6 separate regions of the Homo sapiens genome follow, and regions 1, 3, 4, 5 and 6 are each linked to region 2. Evidence: fine-mapped expression QTL. A gene starts in region 2. Each other region holds a variant in brackets. All regions are shown on one strand. Distances are from middle to middle.

Region 1 (5,205 bases), 72 kb before region 2:
GTTTATGATCTAAGTCACTGTCCATTTCTCTCTTCATGTGTTATGTGGTTCCAGAGGAGGTGGAGAAGGGAAGAGGCCCTGGTGAGTAATCACAGGATGACAGAATATGACACAACATGGAAATTTGCTTTCTGTGTCCCTGTTCAAGCCAACTCTTGGAAACACATGCTCTTTCAAACCTGACAGCCACATCGAACTTCCATCTGAAGCACCTGCCATGTCAAGAAAACCATCAAAGAGATAAGATAATAAATATTAACATTTGAAACCAGTGTAGTCAATGTAACAAACCCAGAGAGCCAATTAGTTTGATTGTTGGTGAATCAAAAAGAGGACCTGGCTAGGAGAAAAGTTGAGGCTTGAGCTTTGGTGGGCAGGATGGGGAGGACAGCTTAAGAATTGATCCGGGCACCAACAAGAGCATAAAATCATCCCAAAGAAAGGGTATGAGAGCTATTTTCAAATGGCAGAAATATTCTCATGTGGAAGAGGAAATCAAGTAATTTGAGGGCAACTCTACTGAAGTGGAAGTTACAAGGAGGTTGATTTTGACTCAAAATAACAAGACTTGCTGGCAATTAAAGTGATCACTTTTAAAAACCTATTAGGCACCAGGAACTGAACTGGATGTTTTGCAAGTATCACCTAATTTAACTCTTGCCAGAGCTGTATAAGACACACATTGTTAGGCCTCAATTTTCAGATGAGGCAATAGAAACTTGAAGACGTTAGGGTGAATGCTCAAGATGGCAAGTAGAGATGACATTTAAATTCGAGTCTGCCTGACTCCAAAGGCTGCCACTGTGGCTGTGCATTTTATGCATTGCACAGAGACATTTGGGCTGCTTTTGCCAGAAGGAAGCATAATTTATTCTTTTTAGAAAGATGCTTTCCTTTAGCCAAACCATGCAGTGGGGTTACATCTACCTTGAAAAAGCACCTTTTTTTGTTATTGTTATTTACACAAAAACCCCATGTTCGATAACTGTCTCTGGGTTTACACTCCTTCTGATAGAAAGAATTCCAGCTGTGGAGTGAACTGCCACATACGATGAGAACAGTTCAACCCCAGAAAGATTTTATAGACTTGGGAAGATAACTGCCTCTTATCCTTATTATAATACAGTTATTTGTGTCATTCTCCAACCTAGTATTCTTTAATGCTTTGTGTCTTTCCAAGGCCCTGCATGATTGACCCTTACTTACCCCCCTCCATTCTTCTAGAGCACTTACTTTTGCCATATAGGACTTCTCTGTTTCTGCTTCAGAGACTGTATTTATAAGTTCCTTTATTTCCTGTCTTCCAAACAGACAGAGTTATATCCCCTGAATAACTCTTACTGATCCTTCAGGTCTGAGCTCTTAAATATATTTCTTCAGAGATGCCTTTGCTGACTTGCTGGTCCAGGTTGAGTACCCCATGGATGGGTCAGGCTCCAGGCAGGACTATAGAAACTACACTAGGTATTTCAGCCAGAAGGAATTTAATACAGGGGGGTGGTTACAGAAGTATTGCAGGGTTGAAAGAGCAAAGAGATGTGTAGCTGAGCCACAATAGGTAAATTACCAGAACCTTCCAGTAATACACATAGCTCCATTTTTTTCTGTTTTTACTTTTTTAAAACTTCTTTTCAGTTTTTATTTTAGATTTGGGGGTATAGGTGCAGGTTTGTTATAATGGTATATTGTGTGATACTGAGGTTTGGGGGTACCATTAATCCTTTCATTCAGGTAGTGAGCATGGTACCCATGGTACCCATCTATCTTAGAGATAGGTTTTACCTCCCATCTATCTTAGAGATAGATTTTATTATTATTATCCTCATTCTACAGATGAGGCAACCAAGGCCCAGAGAAGTTAAATTGACTTGCCTAAGTTCATATGGCCAGTTATGAAGTAGAGTACCCAGGATCTGGACACAGGCTGACCATGGGGCCACAGGCTACACTCTTAGCCACCACACAACCCTGCCCCCTTTGCTCATGCCTCTTTGAGCCCTGGCTTTTGCATCTATCAAATGGAGGTGATGATACATTTTTTTGTAAGG[G/A]TGATTTGCAGAGCTGTAACTAGGCCTCCATTTGTGAGAATTTCCAGTCCTGCTTCCACTTCGTTACCTTTAGTGGAAGTCATCCTATAAAATGCAAATACTGAAGCTGTGGGCCCTTGATCCTAATGTGTTTGTGTAAATTCGTGTGTCTTAGGAGTCTATTCTTCTTCCACCAAGGGAGGGATGGAGGAGAGCACAAGACAAGAGGGTGCAGGTTTCCTGTGGCTGTTGTAACAAAGCACCACTAACTGAATGGCTTAAAACGACAGAAATGTATTCTCTCACTGTTCTGGAGGTTGGGGTCTGGAATCAAGGTTTCGGCAGGGCCATGCTCTCTCCAAAGGCTCTAGAGAACAATTTTTCCTTGTCTCTTCTTTGCCTTTAATGGTTGATGTCAATGTATGGCATTCCTTGGTTTGTGGCGTAGAACTCTAATCTCTGCCTCTGTCTTCATGTGACCACTTTCCACTGTGTGTTTGTGTCTAAATTTCTCTCTTCTTGTAAAGATGCCAGTTATTGGATTATGGTTCATCTTTTTTTTTTTTTTTGAGATGGAGTTTTGCTCTTGTTGCCCAGGCTGGAGCACAATGGCGCGATTTTGGCTTACCGCAAACTCCGCCTCCCGAGTTCAAGTGATTCTCCTGCCTCAGCCTCCCAAGTAGCTGGGACTACCAGCATGCACCACCATGCCCGGCTAATTTTGTATTTTCAGTAGAGACGGGGTTTCTCCATGTTGGTCAGGCTGGTCTCAAACTCCCAACCTCAGGTGATCCTCCCGCCTCAGCCTCCCAAAGTGCTGGGATTACAGGCATAAGCCACTGCACCCAGCCTGGATTATGGTTCATCTTAATCCAGTATGACCTCACGTTAACTGAGTTACATCTGCAGAGATCCTATTTCCAGATAAGGTCAAATGCTGAGGTTCCAGGTGAACATGAATTTTTGGGGCACACTGTTCAATCCAGTACAGAGGGGAAAGGTGACAACAGATGGAGAAGCAGGGAAGGAGGGTGCTGGGAAGGGAAGGGAAGAGGGTGCTCCAGGAAGGGGAAACTCTCCTCTCCATGGTTATGTTCAGACAGCTGCCTCTGGGCCTGGGTAGCATTCTAGTTTTGTAGGCATTTCACCGATCTGTATGTCCATCTTTTTAGCCATAAAACAACAGTGTTGGTCTTTAAGGCCATGTCCACCATGAAGGCTCTCATTTCCTAGGAGAGGAAGCAACCAGAATTGGGCAGCATAAAGCAAAATTGTCTTCATAGCCATCTGGAAGACAACCTGCCAACAAAATCCCATCACGACAGGCCTTCCATTCTAGATACTCTGCAATCAGGAAACAGCTCCTCCAACACCACGCCAGGACTTTCAGTGGCTCATATGATGGGCAGTGAGTGGGAGCTGTAGTTTTGGGTCCAGGTGAGATCACAGCTGATGGCCTTCCAGAAGCCAGCCATGCAGAGCTCCAGAAGGAACAGGTAGAATCACAAAGAGGTTGAGACTTGGCCTGAGGAGGCAGGGTAAGAAAGAACAGCATCAGTGAGCTTGAGTAAGGAGGGCATTTGGACACATCTGCAAGATTCCAAGCAGGTTAAATGTTGGATCTCCCATCAAGGGGCTTTAGGTGCTCAAAGGAATAGGATGGTATTAGAAGACTGGTTTGCTGAAAAAGTACCAGCCTTTGTACCAAGATTTTATGTTATCTCATTTAACCCTCAAAACATGTAATTATAGAGTAAATACTATTCTCTCTATTTGAAAATTGTGAAAACTGAGTTTCAGGGAATGACTGGCGTGGGGGTGCACTGTTAGTAAATAGCAGAGCCAGGAATTCAAACTCGAGTCAGTTTCATTCCCAGCCCTGATCAGAGTTGAGTTGGGTGTGAAGATTTGTTTGGGACTCAGGGCTTTGTGTTTTGTTTTTGGCATTGGGCTCCCTCCTTGCAGCCCCCAGTGCACACGTGTCTGCAGGCCTCTCTGCCTCTGCTCTCGGGGCTACGGGGCCCTCTGTGTGAGGACAGTCAGTTATTTGTCCAGGAGCCAAGGGCAGAGATCAAGGGTTCGGAGTGGTTTTACTTCCTGAGTAGGGAGGCGGCCTTGCTCTGTGGAATCCATCCTTTCGAGGAGGATGAATTTAGCTGCCCTCCCTAGTTGGTGGTGAGGGAGGCGGGCAGGGTCCTGTCAGACAGAGGATGTAGGCTTAGCTCCAAAGGGCTTTTGTCTGAGGCCGGGCCTCAGGCCAGTGACATTCTTTGGTGGAGGCTGCCAGGCCACCACTGAGAGAGGCACCTGTGGGACAGGGAGAGAAAGAGAGTGAGAGGGCTATCTTTCTTCCAGAGAAGAGGGAACCTGGAGGGTGGAATCTGCTGTTTGGGGGCCCCCAGGGTGCTAAGGCCACACCAGCAGGCACTTCAGGCTTGAGAAGACATGCCAAGGCCCAGGCTACTCAGAGATGCGGGCTATTAACTTTCCAGCTTCTGTGTTGTCTAATAAAAATCCCACAAGATGAAAGAATTGTGCTCCTTCTTGGACTTGTTTCCTATAGACATCCTAAGATCACAGAACTTTCCAATGGAAGGGGCATTGGCAGTGTCTGGTTATAACTCATGCACACCAAGTATGTCTCTATTTGTCATGCATGCTGTTGGTGCCCCATCCAGATCTCCTGTGCAGATGGGTGCACCCATGCCTGAATGCTGTGAATGATGCTCACAGCTGCCCCTTTCTCTGGAGAATTGCCCTCAGTCATCAGGAGACATCCTCCTGGGAGGTTACACACTCCCGTCCGTCCCAACCACTTGGAGCCAATGAGTAACAGAGGGGCCTCAAGGAGGCAGCGAGCCTGTGGAGAATCCCCACCCCAGAGCCCCCTGGGGGTCTGGCTGAGACTGGCCTCTGACTGAGACCACATCCTTCCTTAGGACTTGCTCTCACTCTCTTTCTTCTGAAAGCCCTTCTTTGATAAGTTTCTTGTGCAAAGGTGCCCATATTAGGCTCTACTTCTAGAAAACCTGACCTCAGACTCCCTTTTTTCAGTAATTCACTCTAGTGAGCAATTATTGAGCATTTCCCATGTTCTAGATATGGTTGTATGTGCAGAGAACACAGCAGTGAACCAAATAAACTTACTTTTCCCTCGGTGGGCTTATGGGATGGTGGG
Region 2 (5,205 bases):
AGATCGCGCTACTGCTCTCCAGCCTGGGTGACAGAGTGAGGCCCTGTCTCAAAAAAAAAAAAAAAAAAAAAAAATTGCCAGGTGTCACTCCCACTTTCCTGCATCTGGGAACACTTTTCCAGCCTCCCTTTCAAGGAGTTCTCATGAGAGACAAGGGCCTGGTGGTCAGGCCCAGGGAAAAAGGCCACAAGAGAGGTATGCTTTGGCAAACATTGCTAAAGTTGGGGTATTTGGGGCATTGAAATTTAAGCATGTGGCAGGAAAGCTAGACCAAGTGTCCACTGGGCTAAGGCCCCTTATCCCAGGAGTTCAGGAGGCTGGGTAAAAGAGAGACCTGGGGCATGGAAGTCAGAAAACCAGGGTTGGATTCCTTCCAACAGTGCAACAAGGACCAGAATGATAATTTCCTTCAAGTAGACATAATACGTATAAAATGCCCAGAATGCACACAGTAGACCCTCAGCAATGTGCCTGGGACAGCACACCAATGTTACAGAAGTGAAATGGGGCCAGGGCTGGACCTGAGCCTTGGCCTCATCCCTGCTTCTTCTGTTGATAAGATTTATCGAATGATTACTTACGAGATGCCAGGTACCACTTGAAGTGCTTTCATCGATCAGCTCATGTAATGTTCAGAACAGCCCTATCAGGTAGAAGCCATCATTATCCCCATTTACAGATGGATGAGGAAACTGAGGCCCAGAAAGGTTAAGTAACATACCTAAAGGCATACAGTTAGTAGGTTGTGAACTGGAGTTTGAATCCAGGCAATCTGGCTCTACAAGCAGTCATCTTGATAGTTAGAATACCAATAGTATTAAAATCACAATAATGATTGGCAGCAAACGATGTGTCAAGCACCCGTTATTGGCAAGGTGAAGATGAGTCGGATGCATTCGAACGCCCTTGGGGACAGGATCCAGCAGGGGTGATCAAGAGATCAGTTACTTCCTGAAGGTAACACCCTTCCGGGTGATTTCGGGGAGACGGATGGGGAAGGTGGGTTGCAGTTAAGAGTTGGGCAGAGTGATCCAGGGGAACATTATCTTCTGCAGCTGTGCTGTGTAACTCCATGCATCCCTTTGATCCATAAAGTTTTCAAAGCCAGACCTTTTCCCATTACGGAGTGAATCTGACACAAGTGTACAGAATTTTGCACTTGGTTTCTTTTGGCCCCACTCCCCCCAGTCTTTTCTTTTGTTATGTTTTGTGCTTCAAATGGTTAGCTCAAGGGTTAAAGGAACTGTCCGGAGTTAGGTGCCTATGTCTTAATATCTTTTAAAAGTTGCTCATTTGATTCTCCTCCCTCTGGCCCATTTGGCGTTCATCTGAATGAGGGCTCCTGGTTATGCAGATAGGCAGTGGAGCTGTGAAAATGGACCACTAGGCCCCAAATCAACCTGGGCACATTTGCGCTCTGCAGGTTCAACCTCCCAGGAGGGCTCCCTGCGGTTATACCAACGCTGGCTGCTCTCAGTGGGCCTGAAAACCATCAACCGTCCAAGTCATAGGCAATCAGCAATCTCGATAGACTGATGGATCGTGGACAGAAGCTCTAACGCTGTTTCCATTCATTTAGCAACAGCAAATCAATCCACTTTCCCAGCATCCTGCAACTTTATCGAACTCGGCATCCCATTGCAGGATACGCCCCCGAACTCTCCTTAATTATATATTTCGCTATTTGCAATCAGGACTCGGCGATGCAGTCCTGACATCAGAGAATGGGCGTCTTCTCAGAAGGCCGCAGTAGCGGCAGCAGCTTTCCCGCCCTACTGAGCGCTCACTACAAGCGGGCTCTGGGCTAGGCGCGCCACCCGTGCAAGTCCCCGGGGAGCGGCGGTGCACCCTCCGTCCCGCGCGCTCGCAGCCATTGTAGGGGTGGGCGCTCGCCAGGCAGGGTGCCGACACGCCCTCTCCGCGCTGCGACGGGCGGCCGGGGGAGGAGAGGGTGCGCTGTGCGCACCGGAGGGAGAGGCTCCGGCCCAGCGCCGCCTGCCCGCCAGCAGACCAGCAGGCTCCTCTTTGCGGCGGGTGCCCCACGCGCCTCTCGGGCGCGCGCTCCCAGCCCCGCCCGCGTGCGGCGGCCGCACGGCCGCGAGAGCGCGCCTCCGCTTGGCGGGCACGGCCGCGAGCGCGCGTGCGCCCCTCCGAACGTCCCCGGGAGCCCAGCCAGAGCGAGCGCCGGGGCCGGGCGCGCAGGAGTGAAAAGGAGGCGGCGGCCGCAGCTGCGAGCAACAGATCCGGACGCCGCGAGCTGACCCGCTCTGCTGTTGGGCGATTTTTTTTTAATTGCAGAAAAATTTATTAAATTGGAAAATCTTGCGTTTTTCAATGGCGCTGGCCCCGGGTCAGCGGGCGATTTTCTCTGCATCAAGATGGGCTTTGCCGTTTCCGTAGTGGGCACCAGTGGTGGCCTGATTGTCAGTCTTCTCCCGGCATTTTTAAGGCCAGGAGCCGAGCGCTGCTTGTAGGCGAATACCCTACAGAGCGGTTTGGCTTTTTAAATTACTGTTATTATTTTGGGCAGAGAACAGTCGGTCTGGTGCACCCCGTCCTCGCTGCAGAAGAGGCTGCGAGTCCGAGGTGGGTCTCTCGGAAGGTGAAATTCCTTCTGGGGTGAGCGAGCCCCGGCCCCGCGCGCAGTCCAGCGGCCCCGCGTGTGTGCCCTCGCCCTGCCGGAGCCGGGAAAATGGAGGCTGTGATTGAGAAGGAATGCAGCGCGCTCGGAGGCCTCTTCCAGACCATCATCAGCGACATGAAGGTAGGACGCCGGGGGTGCGGCTGCGGCGCCGGCCGCCGCGCTCTGACCTCGCCGCCGCGCTTCGCCTCCACCCCGGGCCGGGCACCCGGCCCTTCCCTGCAGTGTGGCCACCGGCCACCTGCGGGAGCTCCCGGCCGGAGTGTCACCTGCTCACCCGGGGCGCTGCTCCGGGCTCTGCGGGGTCACTGGGCGGGTGGCTTCTCTGGGGGGTGTCTGCTGTCCCACGCCATCTCCCCCGCTCATTGTCCCAGGGGGCGGCACCATTTCTTTCCCTCGGGGGCTCAAGGCACTGGCTGCAAGTTTTCCCATTGTCTGTCCCTGAAGTAAGTGTCTGGGACCCGCGGGGGCTGGATGCCCGGGAGGACACCTGATTCCTCCGGGCACGGGGTGGGGGCGCCTGGCGCGGTGGTGGGGAGGAAGTGGGGGCTCTGCCCGCTCGCAGGAAGGAGTCCCCTAGCCTAGGAGACTGAGAGGGAAAGCCAGTCCCTCCTTGGCTGTCAGGTCTACTTGGAGTGGGGTATCTGAGCAAATTAGTTATTAATTGGGCCGTTCCGAAGCTGGTAAAGGTGTGCGTGCCCTCTCTTAGCCCTCCCGCGGGGCGCGGGGCCGAAGTTCCCGGGCAGCCTTGCAGGGGCCCCGCCTTCTCCCAGCTGAGCCTAAAGGCAAGATTGGGGCCCCCGAAATAACTGTATCCTGCCCTCCCAGACCCAAACGGACACACACTCTAGGTTTTCTCTTGGAAGGGTTGTGAAGATGGTGTGTGTGTGCGCGCGTGCATGTGTGTGTGCGCGCGCGCGCGTGGGGGCGGGGAACAACACCCTGGTTTTTTCCTGCAAAGGGTGGGACTGGGGATAACCTGATCCTCGGATGTGGATTTTCTGGTGCCTAGAGATAGACCAGGGCCCCGTGTTATTCATCCAGAGGAAATAAAACCAGCCGCGCGAGCTGGCTGGAGGTGGGAATTGGGAGCGGTGGGGGAAATTATTTTTTTAATGTGTATTTAGGGAGCTTCTCTTTGGCTCTGGCCCAGCCCCAGTTTGCCTCAACAGATCCAGATCCGGGGAGGTGGTGTTTAATTAAAAGCTCGCTTCCAAAACGAGTGGGCAGGTTTGGAAAGCTGTGCACCGAGTGGGTGTGGACAGCCCCTCTTCAGCCGCTGCCTGGGCGCCTGGAGGAGCTTTTGTCTGATGAAGTGTAAGGTTTAGAGAGGCTTCGTGCCTCGGAGATGGTCTTTGGGAAGGAATGCTCAGCTGTCATGGCCTGCTTCCACCTTTCAGAACCAACTGCCACCTCACCCAGGGTGAACTTTATCAAGCTGCCTCTGTCCTGGTTTTGTCCATTTTGAAATCTTTCTACAGCTCTCGTGCCTTTTGTCACAAATTGTCCTTAGCATAGCATAATCTGCAGCCAGACTCTGCTTGCCCAGGAATGCTTATAGTCCAGGCACTTGGAATTAGATGGATTATTCCCTGTTGAAAGACAGCCCCTTTCATTCTGTTGCCCCCAGTGCACACTGACGGATCTGTCCACTGTAGTCCTGGAGTGATCACATCTGGAGTTTTTTCTCTTTGTTCTTTAATCCAGAATCCAGGCTCGGTTCTTCCCATTCACTGTTTGAATCGAAAGCCGTTCAGAAGGTGACCTGCCCAAAGGGTGGGCTGTCCTGCTTTCCACCTGCCATCCTGTGGCTGCGTGGCACTATGCCCTGGCTGGGGACTCACGGGTGCCAAGGTGGTGTTTTTTCCCCTGCATGGTTCCAGTTAAAAATAAAGACATTTTCTTTAATGCCCAGTCACGGCGGAATCTAGAGTTTGTGTATCCTGACTTCTTTCGGTTTGAGTTTAGTAGGTTTGTTCAGTATCCTATGGGAAATCATTTATTTTAAAGTTTTTTTTTTTTGGTTTGTTTGTTTTGGCAGTAAAATTTTAAAAGCAAGGTGGAATGGAAGACTAAAACATGCCTTGGGTTCTGCAGAGTTTTAGACTTTTGGAGACTCGAGAGATGAAGAGAGAGGGAATGTCTGATTTCCAAGATTGTTTATGCATAAGACAATTCTTGAATATTTTCTTGGACTTTGCTTCTTAAAAGACTTCATCATGGATTAGATGACAGTGACATTTTAAATGGAAATTAAAAATTTTTAAATTTGAACAGATCTGATAAGCAGTATATAGTGTGCAGATGCATGAAGTCACCAGCAACAAAAGTCAGTTTTTAATATCTGAAATCAACTGACTTTCTAATGACCTGCTTATCCTCTTGTTCTCTTCTTTAAACTCCCATAATGGGTTTATAATGCCTTTGGTCTCCTATCTGTTTGCTCTGAGGGAAAAGCGTAAATGTCGGAAACCCATTTGGAATGCCATCTTGATAAAAATTTTTAGGTTATTTTCTCAGAAGTGATGTTAGGCTGGGTGAGAAAAGGATAAGGAAAATGGTTT
Region 3 (5,205 bases), 34 kb before region 2:
TGTGTGCATACATATCTATATATACACACTATATTATACATGGCACAAATGAGCAATATTGCCATGTAATCAAAGAAGTTAAAAAGGGGGAATCTAAATTCTTTCCTGGTGGTGGTCTCCTTCTATCTCTGAGACTTCTGCAAACTTGGAACGTAATTCAGACTGTCTCTGAACAATTCTGTGTAATGATTCCATATAATTCAAGGATCCCGGAAACTCCCTTCTTCCCTCTGGCTTTCTTCCTTCCAGTATACTTCTCCTAACTGTCAATCCCAACTCTGCTTCTTGCTTGCCACCTCAGCATCAATTCTCACTTCTGCATGTTTTCCTCCAACTGTCCCTTCCCAAGGCTTCACATCAGCCAAGTGCCACAGATGAGAGGTCACACCGGCCAACTGGGGATCCAATGTGGCCCACGTCATGGTGGCCTACACCAGATTTTAAAATTTGGAATTGAAAAATTAGCTGGGCATGGTGGCAGGCACCTGTAATCCCAAGTACTTGGGAGGCTGAGGCAGGAGAATTGCTTGAACCCGGGAGGTTGCAGTGAGCCGAGATTGCGCCACTGTACTCCAGCCTGGGCAACCAAGCAAGACTTCACCTCAAAAAAAAAAAAAAAATTGGAATTTGTTTTCAACACTTAAAAATCAGAAAAGTTTACATTTAAAAAAAAATTAGATTTCTGGCTTCTCTTGACAAATTGAAAGATCTGGCAATACGGAGCCTATAGTACCACATGGCAATCATTGTCCAGAAGGCGTGCTGTTTGGTTCATCACGGTTCTTACCCCCTGCCTACTTCATTCTTTCATGTAACTTGACTGACCCCAAAGACATTTGCACCTGAGATCCTTGAAGGAGACAACTGTTGGCCTGTGTGAATTGAAGCCCCTGCCACTTGTGGTATTTCTGAGGATGTGGAAGATCCATGACATAGTATTTTGTGATTTAACTGATGAACAAGTGAATTTGACTCAGGTATAGACATATGAATCAAAGAACGTGAGAAATCCCAAAGAGCATAACATTTGTTCCTAGCTTTACTGAAATCTAAACAGCAAAAACTGTATATATTCAAGTTGTAGAATGTGATTTTTGAAATATGTATGTGTTAGGAATAACGCTAAAAAATTTTAAGGAAATTGAACACTTGAACAAAGGATTTTTAGCAAAGCAATTTTATTTTTGGGCAGAGGGGTGCCTCCTTGGCTAGTCGCCATGAGAGCCCACCTGAACAAAGGGCACGAGAGCCTTTATTTTTGACGGCAAGTCTTGCCCCTGCACTCTTTCCCCATTGGCTGGGGTCAGGCTGTATAATTTAAAATAATCCCAGTTGGCTAAACGTTTGAATTTTTTTAGGTAAGGTGGGCACGTAAAAGAAAGTGGAGAGGAAGGGGAAGGGGTGTGTGTAATGAGCTAGAAAGTTAGTCTTCTTTTTAAATAAGGAAAGGAACGTGAGCTGGTACTGATAATGCCTGTCCTGTGGCGTGCCTGGGCATCTAACAAATGCAAAAAGGAAAAAAAGGAGAAAAAGGAAAAAAAGGTGGGGGGGGGGGCGTTATTATAAATTAAAGAATAAAAGATTGATTAGATTATTTGAAGAGAAACCTCATCATATTCCACATATACATTGGGAAATGATTACCACTATCAAGCTATTAGGTTGGTGCAAAAGTAATTGCAGTTTTTGCCATTACTTTCCCACAACTCAGAACTTACGCAGATGAATGGAAGCCAAGGGCTGACAGGTTTCAGATTTGATGATGAGATTGTAAAGAGATTCAGCATGTAGTGGGATTTGGGTTATACCACATCAAGATCCTGCCCAACACTGAGATTTTATGGTTCTATGGTTTGGGGAACATGTTATCTTTTAGAAAGGATGGCTCTAGGACTGTTGGAAACACACTTTTATAGCCAATGTGCTTTTCAGATGCCCTTATATCCAGAGTCAACCAGGGTAAAATTATGTTCTCACCAGAGTCTTGTTTAACATCTTTCTTCTTCTCTCTTTTGTCTATTTTCCTTGCACTTCTGACACTTCTCATTGGATGGTTTGTAGGGCTCAGAGAGCCTGTGGTAATTAAAAAGGCCTGTCTCTGGGGTCAGACTCCAGATTAGCTCTAGAATTCAGCCCTTATGAACTGTGTGATCTTGGGAAAGTGATACGACTTCTCTGGGCCTCGATTCCCTCATCTGTATTATTTGGAGACAATAGTGGTACCTACCTCATGAAGTTGTTGAGAATATTAAGCAATACATCTAAAATAACTATTAGAGGTTCTGCCATGAAGAAAAGGCTCAAAAATATCATCAACAGCAAGACCATTATTATTAAAAGAGTCAGCTCCAGAAGTATTTGTCAAAAGTGACTTGGAAACACTGTGTTCCCTGAGGAAAGGGCCCACATTCTTGTTTATTTTCTAAATTCTTGCCCCTAGCAGAGTTCCTGGTACATGTGGATGCTTAATAAATGTCTGTAAATA[G/A]GTAAGTGAAAGAATAAATGAGTGGATGAATCAATAGAGGTTGAAGATTAAGAGATATTTCTGTTGTAAGGTTCTACAGAGGTTCCAAAAGAAGACAAGGAAGGTGGAAGAGGAGGAAAAACACTCACCGAGTGTTGCGGGGAAAACAACAGCTGACGAGGTTAGTCAAAGAGTGATTCATGGGCCAAATAAGCCCAAAAGGAGAAGTTCCCGGTACCACCCCACAACTTGGTGGTGGAAACTTTGAGAATTAGTCAAGAGGGATGGCCCCAAGGGACCGTTTTGTACTGATTTGGGTTTCAGGGTTGAGAGAACACGATGGAAGTTTTCAGAGTGAGGCACTTGGGTAATCTATTTTGGAGGAATTATCTGGAGAAAAGAAAATGAGAACTGCCGGTAACCTTTGTGTGATTGCGTTAAGGTAGGAAGGAGGTGATTCCAGGACATTCTCATAGCCTGGTTTTTCAGGCCCAGTGCGCCGTGGTGTCCCATGCGAATTACAGTTGGAAATTTAACAGTGTGATGACGTGTGAGATAGACTAGCAAAGAAGCAAAGTGTTCATAGTGAAGAGACTGTGTCCTACATGGGAGGGGACTTTTTAAGCAAACTTTTTAAGATATAAGATTGATAAAGGAAAGTACATAAATCAGAAACGTACAATCCATGAATTTTCAAAACATGGAATGTCTACATTGCCAGCATCATGATAGAGAAGTGAGTTCTAAACATAACACACACTGCGCCCATCTGGGATATTTGGCAGAAAAGCAGATTTCTTGGCCCCACTGCGAGAGACTGTGATTCAGTAGATCCAGCGTTTGACCCAGGAATCTGCATTTCTGTCTACACTGCTAGATTCCAGTAAGGGTGGTCCACTGGGTGAGAACAAGCTTCAGAGTCATGCAAACTTGCACTTGGAATCCTACCTTCTCCTTGAGTGAGTAGCTTGACCTTCTCACAAAGACAGTAGGGGCAATAGTACTTCCTCATAGGTTTGCTTTAAGGATTAAATTAGAAAATGCATATAAATCAATAAAAACTGTTGGGCATGGTGTTGACCACACAGTAAGCACTCAGTGAACATAGAAAAGCATAAACGCCCACAAAAAAGACGAGGCTCGGTCCCCAGGTCTTTGTGCCCAGCACCTAGTCCAGAGCTCATCACACAAGGCTAAGGGAGTATGGTGTGAGAGTTAGCAACACGGGTGATATGGTTTGGCTCTGGGTCCCCACCCAAATCTCACCTTGAATTGTATAATCCCCACGTGTTGTGGGAGGGACCAGGTAGGAGGTAACAGAATCATGGAGGCGGGTTCTTCCCATGCTGTTCACATGATAGTGAATAAGTCTCAAGAGATCTGATGGTTTTATAAAGGGGAGTTCCCCTACACATGCCCTCTTGCCTGCTGCCATGTAAGACGTTCGTTTCACCTTCCACCATGATTGTGAGGCCTCCCCAGCCATGTGGAACTGTAAGTCAATTAAACCTCTCTCCTTTATACATTACCCAGCCTCGAGTATGTCTTCATTAGTTGCATGAGAATGGACTAATACAACAGGTTAGCAGTCAGATACCCTGGGGTGTGAGTTCGAGTCCTGGCTTTGCCACTTACTAGTTATGTAATCTTGGGCAAGTTACTTAACAGCTCTGACTCAGTTTCCTTATCTGTAAAATGAGAATAATAACACCTACTTCATAGGGTGACTGTGGGGATGAAATGAGAGAATCAGGAAAGACCTGAGCCCTGAGCCCTGAGCCCTGAGCCCATGGCCTGGTCCCTGCAAAGAGCTCAATAAAAGTTGGCAACTCTATGATTTACAGCTGAAGCTGAGAATGTTCCACCCCTGGGCAATAAAAAGGTACTCCTCAGAGGCATTCTGAGGGGAAACAGGCCCCTCTCTCTGATAACATTAGCTAAATGCTTCTTTGAAAGAGCAGTGTAATAAAAAGGCTAAGAGTTGGATGTTTATTACTAGGCCAAAGTGCTACTACCGTGATTATGGGCCAGGTGGGACTGCCAGTGTTCAGGTGTTTATACCTTTCAAGGGGTTGCAGAGATGGGTTGATAGTGAACTTTTTGCTCTGCAATGGCAAACTGTTATTTAACTTCTGCCAAACGCAGAGGATAAAATTTGAATTGTTGAAGGGGGTTGGGGGAATCAGGCTATTCTCAGCTACATTTTTTGGTGCTGACATCGGGGTTGGGAATTTCCACAAATCCAGCCTTGACTTTGAAGACTGGTTTTCAGGGGTCATTCCAAAGTAATTTATTTCTGGAGAACTAAATTATACTGGTCTTGGCTGGACATGGTGGCTCACACCTGTAATCCCAGCACTTTGAGAGGACCAGGCCGGTGGATCGCCTGAGGTCAGGAGTTCTAGATCAGCCTGGCCAACATGGTGAAACCCCGTCTCTACTAAAAATACAAAAATCAGCTGGGCATGGTGGCAGGTGCCTGTAATCGCAGCTACTCGGGAGGCTGAGGCAAGAGAATGGCTTGACCCCAGCAGGCAGAGATTGCAGTGAGTCGAGATCATGCCACTGCCCTCCAGCCTGGGTGACAGTGTGAGACCCTGTCTCAAAATAAATAAATAAATAAAAATAAATTATACTGGTCAATTTCCCAAGAGATGGAGTATAGACACCATTTCAGATTTCAGTTTGCCGTCTCCTGTGTAAGGTATCTGGGAGCCATGCCTTAGAATCAGAGGTTCCAG
Region 4 (5,205 bases), 120 kb before region 2:
GGTTGGGAACCCTATCTTTGGAGTCACAGAGACTGGTTCTCCCACGAATTATTTGACAAACTGGGAGAAATTAATATGTCTGCACTTCAGTTTCCCTCACTGTAAAAAGGAGATTAATATTGTTGTTGTAGAAGGAATGGGTTATTGCAAGAGTGAGTTGTTATAAAGGTGAGGCCAGTCCTCTCTTGCTCGCTCTTGTAATCCTCTGCCTTCCACTGTGGAATAATGCAGCAAGAAGGCCCTCACCAGATGCCAGCACCTTGATCTTGGACTTCCCAGCTTCCAGAACTGTGAGAAATAAATTGCTTTTCTTTATAAAGCAATTTTATTTACCTATTTTATCAAAGAAATATCTGTACACTCATGTGTACAGATTATTCACAATAGCCAAAATTATTCCCAATAACTAAAATGTGGCAACAATCCAAGTGTTCATTGACAGATGAACAGATAAGCAAAACTGGATATATACATACATGGAATATTGTTCAACCTTAAAAAGGAAGGATCCTTTATAGAGGTTCATACACACACACACAAGGAAATTCCAGTATATGCTACAACATAGAAGAACCTTGAGGATATTATGCTAATTGAAATAAAGCAGTCACAAAAAGACAAATACTATATGATATAGCTGGAGTGGTCAACTTCACAAAGACAGAAAGCAAAATGGTGGGTGCCAGAGACTGGAGGGAGGGGGGAATAGGGCGTTATTGTTTAAAGTGCGTAGAATTTCAGTTTGGAAAGAGGAAGAATTCTGTGGATGGTGTAGTGACAGTAGCACAACAATGTGACTGTACTTAATGCTCCTGAACTGGACATTTTGAAATGGTTAAAATGGTAAATTACATGTATTTTTATATATAATATATATATAAGGTACATGATATTTATATTTAACAAAACAATTTGTTTTAAAAGAAAACAATACCTGTTTTAAAGAGCTATGAGAATGAAAAGAGACTGTGTTCATCTAGCACTTAGCACAGATCTGGCATGCAAGAAGTACTGAATGGGCGGAAGCAATACTTGTTATCCCTACCATTGGTCACCGCTGTGCGTTGCATCTGCCGTGGGTATGTGGGAGACTTCAGGCCTCACATCTATCACAGGTGGGGAGTTTCTGTTGTCTTGCCTGCTTCACTGGGTGGTTGTGATGAGCAAAGGAGGTCTTGTGTTGAGATGCTTCATAACCTTTTTTTTTTTTTAAAGTGAGGCTGGGCACAGTGGCTCACGTCGGTAATCGCAGCACTTTGGGAGGCAAAGATGAGAGGATTGCTTAAGTCCAAGAGTTTGAAACCAGTCTGGGCAACATAGTGAGACCCTGTCTTTACAAAAGAAATTAAAAAATAAGCCAGGCTTGGTGGTGCAATACACGTGGCCCCAGCTACACAGGAGGCTGAGGCAGGAGGATCGCTTGAGCCCAGAAAGTTGAAGTAGCAATGAGTTGTGTTCCTGCCACTGCACTCTGGGTGGGGTGACAGAATGAGACTCTCAAAAGAAAAAAAAAGTGGAGGAATGATTGATCAAGGTGTTATTAACACATTTCTTAGCTAGCTGAACTTCTTGTCTGTCTTCTCTTTGCACTTCGTATTTATCCTATCACTGCACTTGTCACCTTCCCCGGTGGTAACTTCCTCAGGCCTCTCTCCCCCTCACCTGTCATGAAATCCTCAGGCAGGATCTTCCTCATTTCCATATTCCAGCACCCAGGCCAGCATCTGCACCCACACAGAAGAAGCTTCATTTATTTTTGCTGATCTCAGCTGTTCTGGAGACTTGAAACAACTTTTTAGATGATTTTAACCAGAAGAACTTCTGAGGACTGAAGGCAAGAGGTTTGGTTCTGCTTTACAGATTGGCGTCCCCCCCAGGTGCAACTGACCCAGTAAATGTGTAATTGTCTATACCTGCGCAAATGCAGGCTCCTTGATTAACATGCATCGCCCTCTGGGGAAGAAAGGGAAGGGAAGGAAAGGGAAGGATAACTCAGGGAAAGTAGGAAAAACTCTCCTGGACCTCCCAGGAAAAGGTGACTTCAGGACATGGGCTGCCTGGTTGTTTTCAATGGTTTTCATTATTTAGTTTGAGCTCCTGGGGAGTAAATGTTTCTCAGGCATATTTTGGGGATCTAATTCTGGAGTCCTTGAGCTCGAAATAATGCAATAAAATACCTGCTCCGTGGAAGTGAAAATGGCTGCTTCGCAGGCTACCGAAGCTCTCTGTGCACACCCTTCACAGACAGGAGCTTCCAAGAGGTTAGGTAAGGTGTCCAAGGACTCAGAGGGAAAGTGTCAGAACCGGGACAACAGCATACAGTTCCTGGATAGGAGGGATCCCACAACCTGACTGACAGGCTGAGTGTTGCGATGAACTGAGGAACAAAGGCTGCTTCTCTGGAGCAGGCAGGCAGTTTGCATATTAAAGTACAAAGTGTACTGTAATCTCAGCTACTTGAGAGGCTGAAGCAGGAGAATTGCTTCAACCCGGGAGGTGGGGGTTGCAGTGAGCCGAGATTGCACTACTGCACTCCAGCCTGGGGGACAGACAGAGTGAGACTCCGTCTAAAAAATAAATAAATAAATAATAAAAAATACTAAGTGTATTCATCCTAGAGTTTCTGTACCTTTCATGATGGTTGAAGCAGCTAACTTTTGGACTGAACTTGCCCTCCAAACTCCAGACCAGAAATACCACCTATTTGTCATTCTTCCTTTTGACTCATACTAATTCCTCAGCATGTCCTACAGAAGGGAGTGTTGATAAGCCATGAAAAAGAGGAAGAACATATGATGAGGTAGCATGAGGGGCTTTCTTACTCACCAAATGTAAAGGAACAAG[C/G]TTACTCAGCCAGTCTTAATGATTAGCAAGGGACTTTCTCAAGGAAGAAAAGAAAATGGCCGCCACAGTGCTTTCCCCTCACAGTGCACAATTTGCCAATGAGTTCAAAGTGTCTCCGTAACTTCATGCCATTTCTTCTGGTAAGGTTTGGGGGCAGTCAGGGAGGGGTGGTAATTAGTGTTAGATGGGCATACCGAAATAAGGCATAGAGAGGATAACTGGTTTGTTCAGGGGCACACGGCAAACCCATGAAGTCAAACTCAAGTGGCGTCAGGGAGCGCTCAGGCTTCTTCCTGCCTCTAGAAGATTTCACAAGGCCAGGAAGCCAGCAGCCCTAGGGTCAAGTGAAGGGGAGGCAGCTCTGGGACCCACCCAAGAGCAGTTTCTGGTCAGGCATTCCTGGCAACTTGTGGTACCTCGGTCCACCCACGCCTCCTCCACGATGAAAGCTGATAGGCAAGGCCAACGGTCCTCTGGGGCCAGGCAGTGCCTCCGGCCTGGTTTAGGGGGCACTGAGAGGTCTCCCTTCTAAAAATATCTCCCTCCCTTTTCCTGCTGTGGAAGCTGAAGTGGTCACATGCAAGGCTTACTCCCGTGGTTTGAAGCATTATAGTCCCAGTAGATCTGATTTAAAAAATAAATGCCATTATGAGTGGACCAAACAAGTATTACCACACCGTAACATGGGACTTGGCATTTACTTATACCTCTCTCTAAATCCAAAGAAGGATTTGAGAGTATCACACATTTATTTCTCAGATGAGCCAGCTGAGGGAAACAGACCCTGCCCTGGCAAATCCATGGGGCAGCTAGAGAAAACCTTAACTCTACCTAGGACATTTCACTCTCCTGCCCAACACACGCCAAAGCTTCCCGTTGCACCTTGAAAGGAATCCAAACCCAGGATCTTCCCAGGCTCTCCCTGACCCACTCAGGCCCTTGCCTGACTTGCCTCTTGCATTCCATACTTGTTCTCCCGTCTTGTTCTTCACACTCCCACTTCACCTCGCAAGTGCAGCTGTCCTTCCTCCCACTGGGACTGTACGAGCTGCCCCTTCTGCTGGTAAACCTCTCCCCTGTGCTCCTGGTTCCTCTCTATCCCTTAAGCCTTGACTTGAAATGCCACCGTTTTTGTGGCCTCCCTGACCGTGCCACCTAAGGAAGGGGTTCTCTCTTGTCTTTGAAAATATGCTGCTATTTTCCTCCACAGCATTTCATATAATTTGAACGTGCGTGTATGTGGGCACAGTCTATCCTCATTATTTGCAGGTTCTGTATGTGTGAATTTGTCTAATCCCTAAAATGTATTTATAACTCCAAAATCATCACTTAAACCTCAAGGTCATTTGCAGACACATGCAGAGCTGCAAAAGATTTGAGTCACCCAATGCACCCATCCCCAGCTGAGATCCAACAAGGAGACACTTTGCCTTCCTGTTTCTGCTCTCATGCTCTCAAACAAGTGTCCTTTTCATGGTCAGTTTAGTGCCAAACATTTATAAAACAATTTGGTGAAAAACATTTAGGCTGGGCATGGTGGCTCATGCCTGTAATCCCAGCACTTTGGGAGGCCAAGGCAGGTGGATCACAAGATCAGAAGTTTGAGACCAGCCTGACCAACATGATGAAAACCCATCTCTACTAAAAATATAAAAATTAGCCTGGTGTGGTGGCATGCACCTGTAGTCCCAGCTACTGGGGAGGCTGAGGCAGGAGAATCATTTGAACCTGGGAGATGGAGGTCACAGTGTGCCGAGATCACACATTGCACTCCAGCCTGGGCAACAGAGAGAGAGAGTTAAAAAAAAAAGAAAGAAAGAAACAAAGAAGAGAAAAACATATAGAAAATTTTTTTTTTCAGCTCACTGCAGCCTCCGCCTGCCGGGTTCAAGAGATTCTCTCATCTCAGCCTCCCGAATAGTTGGGACCACAGGGATGTGCCACCACATCTGGCTGATTTTTGTGTTTTTAGTAGAGATGGGGTTTCACCATGTTGGCCAGGCTGGTCTCAAACTCCTGACCTCAAGGGATCCACCCACCTCAGCCTCCCAAAGTGCTGGGGGATTACAGGCATGAGCCACTGTGCCTGGCCCACATTTTCAAGATTTTTGTTGATGGTGTCACTGCTTGTTTCAAATGGCCCCAAGCATAGTGCTTAAGTGCTGCCTAGCATTCATGAGCATGAGAAGGCTGTGTTGTGCCTCACAGAGGAAATGTGAGTATTAGGTCATATTCACTCAAGCATCTTGTATTGCTATTGGTATTGAATTCAATGTCAATGGATCAACAATGTGTATTAAGTAAGGTGTCTTTAAACAAGAACACACATAAAACAAGGCTACGTATTGATTGATGGAACTA
Region 5 (5,205 bases), 160 kb after region 2:
CCACGTCCTTCATGATGTAATATATGAAATCACCACAGCGAGCTGTTACATAGAACCTATTGTGTGTCAGGCACTGTCCCAAGCTCTTTACATAGCCTGACTTCCTCCATTCATCTTCATGATTATGCTTGTTTTATAGAGAATGATGCAGAGGCACTGAGAGATGGAGTCACTTAGCCAGGTTCAGCTAGCTAGCAGGTAGTGGAACTGATATTTGAACCAAGTTGGTCAGGTTCCAGATCCCATGCACTTAATTGCTGTGTTCATCTGCCCTCTAGAAGTCAACCCTCCTAAGAACACGTCGCTGGTGTGTTTTGATTGACACTGTCAACCATTCTCCATTTCTCCCATTCTAATTGAGCAATGCATGGAGAGCTCTCTCATCTTATGAAAAAGATGACATTTTTATGCTTTATTCATTTAATTCACATCACACGCACACTATGGGAAGAGACATATTTGGGGGAACTGATGAATCACATGCTGGCTTTTGTGCTTGGTAACAATCTTTTCGTCTCCTTGGAGAGCTGGCTCAGAGGGCAAATTTGGGAGCTCATGTTTTCTATTCTATCAAATTATATTTATTAGACCAGAGCATGCATGCATTCACTTGACAAATAAACATTTACTGAGTGCTTCTTATGTGAATGAAAGGTGGACCTTATACTCATGTGGTCCTTTGTCAAGCAACGGAGACAGATATAGAAATAATGGTGAAAGAATTGGCTTGTTCTTGATTCTGTCAGGCTTTAAAATTTCTAGTGCTGGTCAAATAGGGCAGAAATGACCACTGAATATCAAGTGGTTAAAATGCGCTACCAACAAGTCTGGGAACCATGATTAACTTTATGGCATTACAAGAGGAAAATCCTGTAAATTCTAGCCTTGGGTATAAATGGCTGTTATAAATTATTAATTGGTCACTGTATTTCTCCCTCTCTCGACTGATATTTCATGATTTTCCTTTTCCCTTCCTTTCCTTCTCCCTATTAATTATAGTTTTACTTTCTCAGTAAAAGGATTATGATATTGATGGATTTGGTACTGTGGCTCTTCAATTTAAAAAAAATTTTTTTAACATGTTTTGCTTTCATTCCCACCCCCACGATGGCAGCGTTTTGATGCTTTGGTGGATGTTAAGCTTTGATGGCTAACGCTTCCCCTCTCAGCACCTCATTCACCCAGCTGGCTCTGTCCCCTTAGGTGATTCTGGACTTGAAAGGTTCTGATTACAGCTGGTCGTATCAGACGCCACCCTCTTCCCCCAGCACCACCATGTCCAGAAAGTCCAGTGTCTGCAGGTGAGTGAAGCCGGGGTCCACTCTTGCTTTCAGGACGGGTCATTTTTCTTTATGCTAATGTGAGCAATGGAGCCAGTCCTTATCTCTTAGAATGGCTCATTCTCAAACAGGAAATGGGATGATGAGCTGAAAGAATGGTAATAATTTTGGTCTTGCTCTTTAGTCTCTGGATTAATTTTGGATCAGAAAGAAAACCCCATTAGCCCTTGACTTGTGGATGTAGCTTATTCTCTCTCACTTGTATGTTGTAGGGATTTTCCTATTCTATGAGATCACATTTGATTTTCCTGTTTAGCAGAGTGAAAACCTTCTAAGGCCTAAAAAATGGTGAACCTGGGTTGATTTTTACACAGGCTGATCTCACTGTTGCCAGAACAAACGAAGGAAGTAACAATGGCTTATGCCCTCATTTCACCCCATATTTTTGTTTCAGGGTTTCATAAAGTAAATAGAGTTCTTGCTCTGTCAGTCACTGCTACTACTACCACCACTACCACGACCACACCTGTATTAATTAGTACTGTTCCCTATTGGAACAAAATCTGTTGGAATAGTTCTGCCATCTGCAAAACTGTTGTCTAGCAATTTTCTGTTAGAAGTCAGTTCTTGGCTTGCCGAGTAGGAAAGTTTCTTTTCCTCTCCTTGAAAGATGGAAGCATGATGTACCATCTATCTCTCTTGGTATAGTAGTCCTGTTACTCTTTTAATTTAACTTTCAAAGCCAAATGAGTTTCCACTTCCTGTGTATTAGCACTGAGAGTAGAGGGCAGGATGTATCTGCTCAATCTGTCT[G/A]TGGTGATGTTTTGGTGCACGCTGATGCCTATTTCCTTTCACTGCGGAGCTTGTACACTACACACTTAGCAGGAAGTTCAGACCTAAGACGCTGCATCCTGGACATTCTGCCCCCTGAAGATATTGGTTTGTTTCTTATCTTCTGTCGACTGTGTGTGTGTGTGTGTGTGTGTGTGTGAGTGAAAGAGAGACCTTTTTATTGTTGCCAAGAAAAATCTCTCATTAGTGTAAAACAAAGTTGCGTGGCTGTTTTTTTCTTCCTTATAATTTTAGTTTGAGTAGAAAACCATGTTGCACTGACATCTGCAACTCTGAGGCTGCCGGGGTGGAGTTGCTGTGAGCTTTACTGTCGGTCCCCAACTGCCGCCTTCTGGCTGACTGGAGGGGAAAGTCAAAAATCATGATATTTATTCCTCACTGCAGCGATTTCCTCCAGCACGCTCCCCTATGTCTGTCTGAACATTTGCACCAAGTAATTCTAGTGTAGAACAGTCACGCGGCCCTTGAGTACCTTATTAGCTGCCAGATTTTGCAAGCCAGAGTCTCTTGCAGGCTTAGGAGCAGAAACCATGACTTTTCCTATCCCAGCCCTAGTTATTTACTTCATCCCTGCTGCTGCCTCTACAACTGCTCTTTTTATTTCAGCTCCGTTTGTTTGGACCATGGGAGTCTGTTTTCTGCTTTTTATGATCTAAGTTACTATACAGAGTGTGGAGCATTTTTTTTTTTTTTTTTTTTTTGAGATCGGGTCTCGTTCTGTTGTCCAGGTGGAGTGCAGTGGCATAATCTCAGCTCGCTGCAACTTCTGCCTCCTGGGTTCAAGTGATTCTCCTGCCTTGGCCTCCCAAGTAGCTGCGATTATAGGTGCCTGCCACCATGCCTGGCTAAGTTTTGTATTTTTATCAGAGGCGGGGTTTCACCGTATTGGCCAGGCTAGTCTTGAACTCCTGACTTCAGGTGATCCACCCGCTTTGGCCTTCTGAAGTGTTGGGATTACAGGCGTAAGCCACCGCACCTGGCCAGGAGCATGTTTCTTTTGAGTGGAGATGGAAGGCAGACAGAAATCCAGAGCGGGTGTGTCATTATTTGACATCCTGTTTACTGTGCCATTTCAAGAGCAAACAGCTGAGCATTGATTGCCCTTAGTCGCTGAAAGCTGCCTGCCTCTTGCCAAGTGTGCTATTGTGCCAGACCCACAGATATTTTAACACAGAAACAGCTGGGGTCAGAGTAAAAACATTAATTAAAGCATCACTTTGTTAAAAGGTAAAACATATGCACACCAACATAGTGAGTTGATTTGCTGATGTTCTTGACAGCGGGCTTGACCAGACTCAGCTAGGATGAAATCACCTCAGCAAATCCATCGGCAGTGCTTAGCTGGGTTGGCCTTGGTCATGTGGACCCAGATGGTCCATCCAAGAACATTCCAGTCATGCTGAAGCCCCAGTGGACTTTTGCTGCAGGCTCATGGTTCCTGCAGGCAGATTAACCCTGTCCCTTTTCTTGCTACTGACATCAGCTCCCCTCGTTTTGGTGGTAGGCGAAGCAGCAGAGTTGGGCGCACTTGACGTTTTAGAACCCCAGACCTCCCTCGTAAGAATGCCACATGGTTACCATCGGAGACCTGAGTCCTGGCAGCTGTATTTCCCCCTGGGTCACCTGGAAAAGCATTTTGTTGACTACCTTCATGATTTGGTGTTTTGAAAACGTGTTTTGTGGTTTGCACTGCATCTCCAGGGCAGAGAGCTAATTGCATTATGTTGTGCTTCTCTCTCTTCTGCCTCATCTGTTCCCCTCCTTCCTCCTTCCTCTTACCACTGCTCCCCTTTCTTTACCTTCCGTGCCCACCCCTCACCCCTGCTTGTCCTCCACAGCAGCCTGAACAGTGTCAACAGCAGTGACTCCCGGTCCAGCGGCTCCCACTCGCATTCCCCCAGCTCACATTACCGCTACCGCAGCTCCAACCTGGCCCAGCAGGCTCCTGTGAGGCTGTCCAGCGTGTCCTCCCATGACTCAGGATTCATATCCCAGGATGCCTTCCAGTCCAAGTCACCATCCCCCATGCCGCCAGAGGCCCCCAACCAGGTAAGGGTGCCCTTGGCTCCAGGAGCAGCTGTCACACCTGGTGTCCTGACCACTGTCAGTGGCCAGAACCAAAGAAGCACCTTGGCTTAGACAATCCCCTGCCCACTGACTTGAGAAACCTCTGGTTTAATTTCTCATCTTTAGATGTATTGTTCCCCTAAAGGGAGAGGTGCTATAAGTGGGTTTGAAGCCTGTCTCCATGGTGGTAATGGTTGCATTACCACATCGATTTGGGGAGCTCTCACGTAAGTAGATGGATTGAAAGAGGTTTGACCACTCTCAGGCGTCCCTGTAAGTGCCCAGCTTGGCATAATTAAATGCTATAATTAAAGGGCATTGCACAATGGGGACACCTCCTCCCCCACATCTCAGGTTCTCCCTGAATGGCTGAGATTCTATGGTTGAATAGCGCTTCCGATACCATCCCTTGGCGCTCTCAGGTTCCTTTTATCAATCTGTGTTGAGAATGAGAATGAATCATCAGAGCTTCTGCACATAATTCTGTTGGCACTTAGATTCTGGAAGGGAAGGTGTGGCAGAATCTCTTCAACTACAGCTGGGTTTAATGGTGCTAGGCCCAGCCCAGCCCAGTGGTTCCAGCTGGAGCAGAACGCAGGAGCTGGCCAGGGCATCTGAACACTCTTCATGTGCATCATCAATGTATGTGATCCTCTCTCTGTCCTCTCTCCCTTAGTGTCATTGGGTTGGTGTCGGCCTTGAACTTGGCAAGTAGCTCTACATACAGAATGCTGGGTGCCCCACAGCCCCACCTGCTGGGAAACCCATGTCAGAGCTCTGCGTTCCTCTCCTCACAGCTCAGCGCTCCCATTAGCATTTTTCAGCCATCCTGGGGACTGTGGCCTCTGTCTGCCTTCCTTGGATACACACTCAATTTTAAACGCACTCAGAGCCAAGAGCCACGGCTATAGTTTGAGAGTGCTTGAGAGTGCGTGTCCCACCTGGGGTGCTTGGCTTGGTCTGTAAGGAGCTCCTCTTCCCCGCTGTGTGCTTCACTAAACCATAT
Region 6 (5,205 bases), 59 kb before region 2:
TGGGAAATGAAAAAGAAACAGGATGGGATCTGGAGGACAGTAATATTCTATTCATTAAATACATGCATACACACACATACACATGACAGAATATTCTATATCTTACAAGGGTACTGACACGGTTTGGCCGTGTCCCCACCCAAATCTCATCTTGAATTGCAGCTCCCATGATTCCTACGTGTTGTGGGAGGTACCTGGTGGGAGGTAATTGAATCATGGGGGCGGGTTTTTCCCATGCTGTTCTTGGGATAGTGAATAAGTCTCAGGAGATCTGGTAGTTTTATAAAGGGGAGTTTCCATGCACACACCCTCTTGCCTGCCACCATGAAAGGCATGTCTTGCTTTCCCTTTCCTTCCACCGTGATTGTGAGCCCTCCCCAGCCATGTGGAACTGTGAGTCCATTAAACCTCTTTTCTTTATACATTACCCAGTCTCGGGTATGTCTTTATTAGCTGTGTGAGAACAGACAAATACAGGAATATACATATAGTCAAGTGTTGCTTAACAACGGGGATCTGCTCTGAGAAATGCATTATTAGGCAATTTCATCCTTGTGTGAACACCATAGTGTGTACTTACACAAACCTAGATTGTCTAGCCTACTATACACCTAGGCTATATAGTCTAGCCTATTGGTCCCAGGTTACAAATCTGTACAGCAGTTTACTGTACTGAATAACATAGACAATTGTAACACAATGGTAACTATTGTGTATCTAACCACAGAAAAGCTACAGTAAAAATACAGTATAAAAATAACAAAAAATGGTACACCTACGTAGGGCACTTACCATGAATGGAGCAGGCAAGACTGGAAGCTGCTCTGGGTGAGTCAGCAAGTGAGTGGTGAATGAATGTGAAGGTCTAGGACATTACTGTCCACTACTGTAGACTTTTTGACTCTTGTATTAACACTTAGCTTAAAACACAAACACATTGAACAGCTGTACAAAAATATTTCCTTTCTTTATATTTTTATTTTATAAGATTTTCCCTACTTCTAAGAATTGTTTTACTTTTTAAAACTTTTTGTTAAAGACTAAGAGACAAACACACATGTTAGCCTAGACCTACGTGGGGTCAGAACCATCTATATCACTGTCTTCCGCCCCCACGACTTGTCCCACTGGAAGGGCTTCAGGGACAATAACACGCATGGAGCTGTCATTTATAATAACAACACCTTCTTCAGGACACCTCCTGAAGAACCTGTCTGAAGATGTTTTACCATTACCTTTTTTGTATAAGAAGAAGGAGTGCTCTCTAAAATAACAATAATAAGTATAGTAAATACACGAACCAGTAACATAGTTGTTTACTATCATGATCAAGTATTCTGTACTGCACATGATTGTATTGCTCTGTTGTATACCACTGGCAGCACAGTAGGTTTGTTTACAGCAGCATCACTACGCACAAGTAATGTCTTGCACTATGTACTGTGGCTACGTCACTAGGTGGACTTTTTCAGCTCCATCGTAATCTAATGGGACCACCGTGGCACACGGGTCCGTTGTTGACCCAGCACGTCATTTTGCAGTGCATGACAGCACTCCAGGTTGCTGTTTCTGACCACTGCACAGCACCACCCACTGTGATCCTTCCTGTTACTTCTCCAGCCCCTGGTGAAGAGCTGCCTCCAACTTCCTGCGCTCACCTGCAATACTACAGTAAGTTGAAATTTTTATACTTTTTAACTCAAAGTTTTTTAGTTCTTTTCCAGCTCTCAGTTCTGAATTTATGCCAAACACAGTAATTTTATGAGTAAACCATGTTGCACGGGCATCCCTCAAGTCCATGTTCCTCGGTTAAATAATGCGACCCTAAAAATCATACAAAGGTGCATTTAAAATGTGTCTTTCCTGACTTTTCTAAAACAGTCACAAATTGTGTAATAAAACAAATGACAAGAATCACATTGGCTACCATTTAGAGAGCACTTTACATATGCTGAGTTCTCTCTTAAGCCGGGTACAAGCTGTAGTTCATTCAACAGTACCTGGAGCCAGCTTGGACTGGCTTGCAAGAGCCGATTATTAAATTTTCAAGAATTTTGCAAGCCAGTCACTAAACACAGCAATTATTAAAAATCAAATTATATATACTCACAATTAAACACGTTGGATTATAAACAAATATAATAGAAACTCATCACTTCCTAATTATTATTATTATTTTTTTTTGAGACAGAATTTCGCTCTTGTTGACCAGGCTGGAGTGCAATGGCACGATCTCAGCTCACCGCATTCTCCGCCTCC[G/C]GGGTTCAAGTGATTCTCCTGCCTCCTGAGTAGCTGGGATTACAGGTGTGCGTCACCACACCCAGCTAATTTTGTATTTTTAGTAGAGATGGGGTTTCTCCATGTTGGTCAGGCTGGTCTTGAACTCCTGACCTCAGGTGATCCGCCTGCCTGAGCCTCCCAAAGTGCTGGGATTACAGGCATGAGCCACTGCGCCCGGCAGTTCCTAATTATTTTACTACCCTCCACTGTTATCCAGGCTCAGATAATGTCCACTGTATCTGCACGGTGCAAGCAAGATATAATGGTTCCCATATCTAATTCCACATGCAATAGTGTTACATTGGTTCCTTGAAATCTGCCTTAGTGGGAGAATTTGCACCACAGAAATCAGCAAATACTATGAATCAGGAGTCCTCTGTCCTCAGAGCTGGTTGTTAAACACTGACCAGCATACCACTGTGCTCAATCCTCACAACAGCCCTATGAGATGGGTCCTTTTTTATTTTACAGATGAAAAAGTGAGGCCTCTGGAATTGGACATGTAAGTGGAGATGCCCAAAGCGTACTTGGGTGTATTAGTCCGATAAGGACTATTAAAAGAATTTAAAAATGGTCATTGGATTTGATAATTATGTAGTTAGTAGTGGCTTCAGGGAAGTGATGGGGACAAAGAAGCCAGATTACAGTAAGTTCAGAGTGAACAGGAGCAAAGGAGCACAAACAGTGAATATGGACTGACATTCAGGACACGTGGGTCATTCAGGAGACAGATGATAACTAGGGGGGTTCACATAGGATCAAGTTTCCGCCCTTCTAACACATCAAATTAACCATTGCAAAGTGTTCAATTCAGTGGCGTTTAGTACATTCACAGTGTTGTGCAACCACCACCTCTTCCATCACCCCCGACCCAAATAACCTCCGTACCCGTTAAGCAGTCAGGTCTCCATTTCCCCCTCCCCCCAGCTCCTGGTAACCACCAATTTTCTTTCTGTTTCTATGGATGAACATATCTCAACATCTAAGACAGGACCTGCCACATAGATCCTCCGTAAAAATTTGTTGAGCTAAACAGACACTACCTATAAGTCACACCCGCATCCTTGCAGATCACCCTAGCTCAACCACTGCAACTTACAAATTCAGGAGGTAGTTGTTCATGTTGCCTCATCCCTTTCAGGGCAAGGACCGTGTTTTACACACCTTGCCCTCTCCACAGCAAATGGCACAGTGCCTCGTACATACTAGGTACCCCATAAGCATTATCAAAGGCTCTGGAATTATTTTGCATCTCTCCAAATCATATGTTTTTTCAGGTGAGTTTTATGTTTAATCCCTTTTTCTTTTGATTTTAAAATTAAAACATACTCATCGTAGAAAATTTATTTTAAAACATCGAGATATCTGAAGAAGTTCAAAATCACTTATAATACCTCAATCCACATAAAGGTTGCTATGGGTTTCCTCCATGTCATTTTCCAAATGCAGGATCTTGGGGAATTTAAAAGGGGAGTGCAGGTGTGCACATGGGTATTTAAATCCCACTGCTCCATGGTTCTCCTGCTAGTTAATTAACTATTAGCACTACTGCTTTGGCTAAATCTCACATTTTTACAAACAGTGGAGATTAGCAGGGAAGCCCCTTTGAGTTCTGAAAAGTAACCCTTCTATCACCTCCATGTTCTCATATTAACAGGAAAGCAAGCAGAGCGCCTTATAGATGCACCAGAGAGTCTACGTCTACAAAGAACAAGGAGCTGAGAACCTACCATAAAAAACTTCCATCAAAAGGAATATGTATCTTGCTTCTTGGAAAGGGAAGTTTACTTTTCTGGGGCAGGGCTTAAGGAAGTGTCCCAGCAAGACACTTGCTGATGACTGAGCTCCGGTCAACACTGCTAGGAAGTGTCTTGGGAGTGGTGGGAAAGAACATCAGCTCGGGGTGGGGAGCGCTGAGGGAGTTGCCTAAGAGAGGACATAGAAGGGGCAGAGTCAGCACTACAAATACAAGAAGTTTACTTTTGGTGCAAATGACAGTTCCTATTTATTGAAAGCCTGATGTGGAACATGTTGAGATTAGAGCAGGTTTCTAAAGGATACCCATCACCACCTTCTTGTAGTCCCCACCCTGTTCCAAACCATTTAAAATAAGAGAGGAGTCTGGCAGGTGGAGAACAAAATGGGAGAGACAGCATTGGAGAGCTCAGGTGAGGTTTAAGGCAACAACAGGCTTCTGCTGACCAGAATCAGCCTGACTTGCACCTGGTACTGGGCAGTAGTGGAAAAATGCTGACCTTCCCATGTAGTGTGCCTCCCCAGAAACACATAACGTATGGAGGAGCCGGGCAGAATGTGTGCTTCTGGTGGCAGCTGAATTCCAAAGGAAACGTAGATAGGAGGCAGGTGTACCTATGCCCATTTCCTACTCCCAAATTTGCCAAGGAGGTAATTCCTCCTTGCGGAATCCTGAGCACAGGACCAGAAAGGAGCCAGGAGTGTTACATGCATCGATGTCCCTCCACATGGAAACACACAGCAAGGGGAAAGGAGGTTCCACATAAGAGGTACTGTCCTAGGAGTGTTAAGTGTTTTATCTCTAAAATACTTCAGAACAACCTGTAAAGAGGATATTCAGATCTCCATTTTAAGATGTAGAAACTAACGAGATCCTGTAATTTGCAACAACATGGATGGAACTGGAAGTTATTAAGGGGATAAGTCAGGCACAGAAAGACAAACTTCACATATTCTCACTTGTTTGCGAGAGCTAACAATTATAACATTTGAACTCATGGAGATAGAGACTAGAAGGGTGGCTACCAGAGGCTGAGAAGGGTAGAGGGGGAAATGCTAGCGGGAAGTGGAGATGGTTACTAGGTACAGAAAAATAGCTAGAAAGCATGAATAAGGGCCAGACACAATGGCTCATGCCTGTAATCCCAACATTTTAGGAGGCCAAGGCAG

Direction of the effects. Alleles are on the strand shown, and positions count from the first base shown. SD is a standard deviation of normalised expression in the study named. Not every link is listed here.
In carriers of allele G in region 4, the expression in thyroid of the gene that starts at base 2,175 in region 2 tends to be higher than with C alone (small effect, 0.27 SD a copy in GTEx).

The links. PIP is the estimated chance that this variant, and not a neighbour inherited with it, causes the effect.
Region 1: its variant is fine-mapped to the expression of MTSS1 in monocytes (TOPMed, PIP 0.99).
Region 3: its variant is fine-mapped to the expression of MTSS1 in pancreas (GTEx, PIP above 0.99).
Region 4: its variant is fine-mapped to the expression of MTSS1 in thyroid (GTEx, PIP 0.90).
Region 5: its variant is fine-mapped to the expression of MTSS1 in whole blood (TOPMed, PIP above 0.99). The same link has a PIP of 0.9 or more in CD4 T cells, T cells, Th1/17 cells, activated CD8 T cells, activated naive CD4 T cells and blood mononuclear cells.
Region 6: its variant is fine-mapped to the expression of MTSS1 in whole blood (INTERVAL, PIP 0.92).

What each region holds. Positions count from the first base shown.
Region 1 is chr8:124,797,906-124,803,110 of GRCh38, reverse strand. No RefSeq gene overlaps it. Among named protein-coding and RNA genes, the nearest start is that of MIR4662A, 21 kb to the left of the region's middle. RefSeq lists enhancers at 3,781-4,280, 4,281-4,782. The variant G/A (reference allele first, on the strand shown) is at 2,049.
Region 2 is chr8:124,725,443-124,730,647 of GRCh38, reverse strand. It overlaps MTSS1 (MTSS I-BAR domain containing 1), which reads left to right and starts at 2,175. Exons shown (of 14, transcript NM_014751.6): 1 at 2,175-2,764. The coding sequence starts at 2,693. LOC105375741 (a long non-coding RNA gene) reads right to left here and starts at 2,109. Exons shown (of 3, transcript XR_002956670.2): 1 at 582-2,109.
Region 3 is chr8:124,759,578-124,764,782 of GRCh38, reverse strand. No RefSeq gene overlaps it. Among named protein-coding and RNA genes, the nearest start is that of MTSS1, 34 kb to the right of the region's middle. The variant G/A (reference allele first, on the strand shown) is at 2,486.
Region 4 is chr8:124,845,794-124,850,998 of GRCh38, reverse strand. All of the region lies in intron 1 of LOC105375743 (a long non-coding RNA gene), which reads left to right. Among named protein-coding and RNA genes, the nearest start is that of MIR4662B, 26 kb to the right of the region's middle. RefSeq lists a silencer at 2,598-2,892 and enhancers at 2,598-2,892, 2,037-3,236. The variant C/G (reference allele first, on the strand shown) is at 2,845.
Region 5 is chr8:124,561,758-124,566,962 of GRCh38, reverse strand. MTSS1 (MTSS I-BAR domain containing 1) reads left to right here. Exons shown (of 14, transcript NM_014751.6): 9 at 1,204-1,301; 10 at 3,971-4,181. Among named protein-coding and RNA genes, the nearest start is that of NDUFB9, 25 kb to the right of the region's middle. RefSeq lists a silencer at 4,898-4,987. The variant G/A (reference allele first, on the strand shown) is at 2,094.
Region 6 is chr8:124,784,255-124,789,459 of GRCh38, reverse strand. No RefSeq gene overlaps it. Among named protein-coding and RNA genes, the nearest start is that of MIR4662A, 35 kb to the left of the region's middle. The variant G/C (reference allele first, on the strand shown) is at 2,260.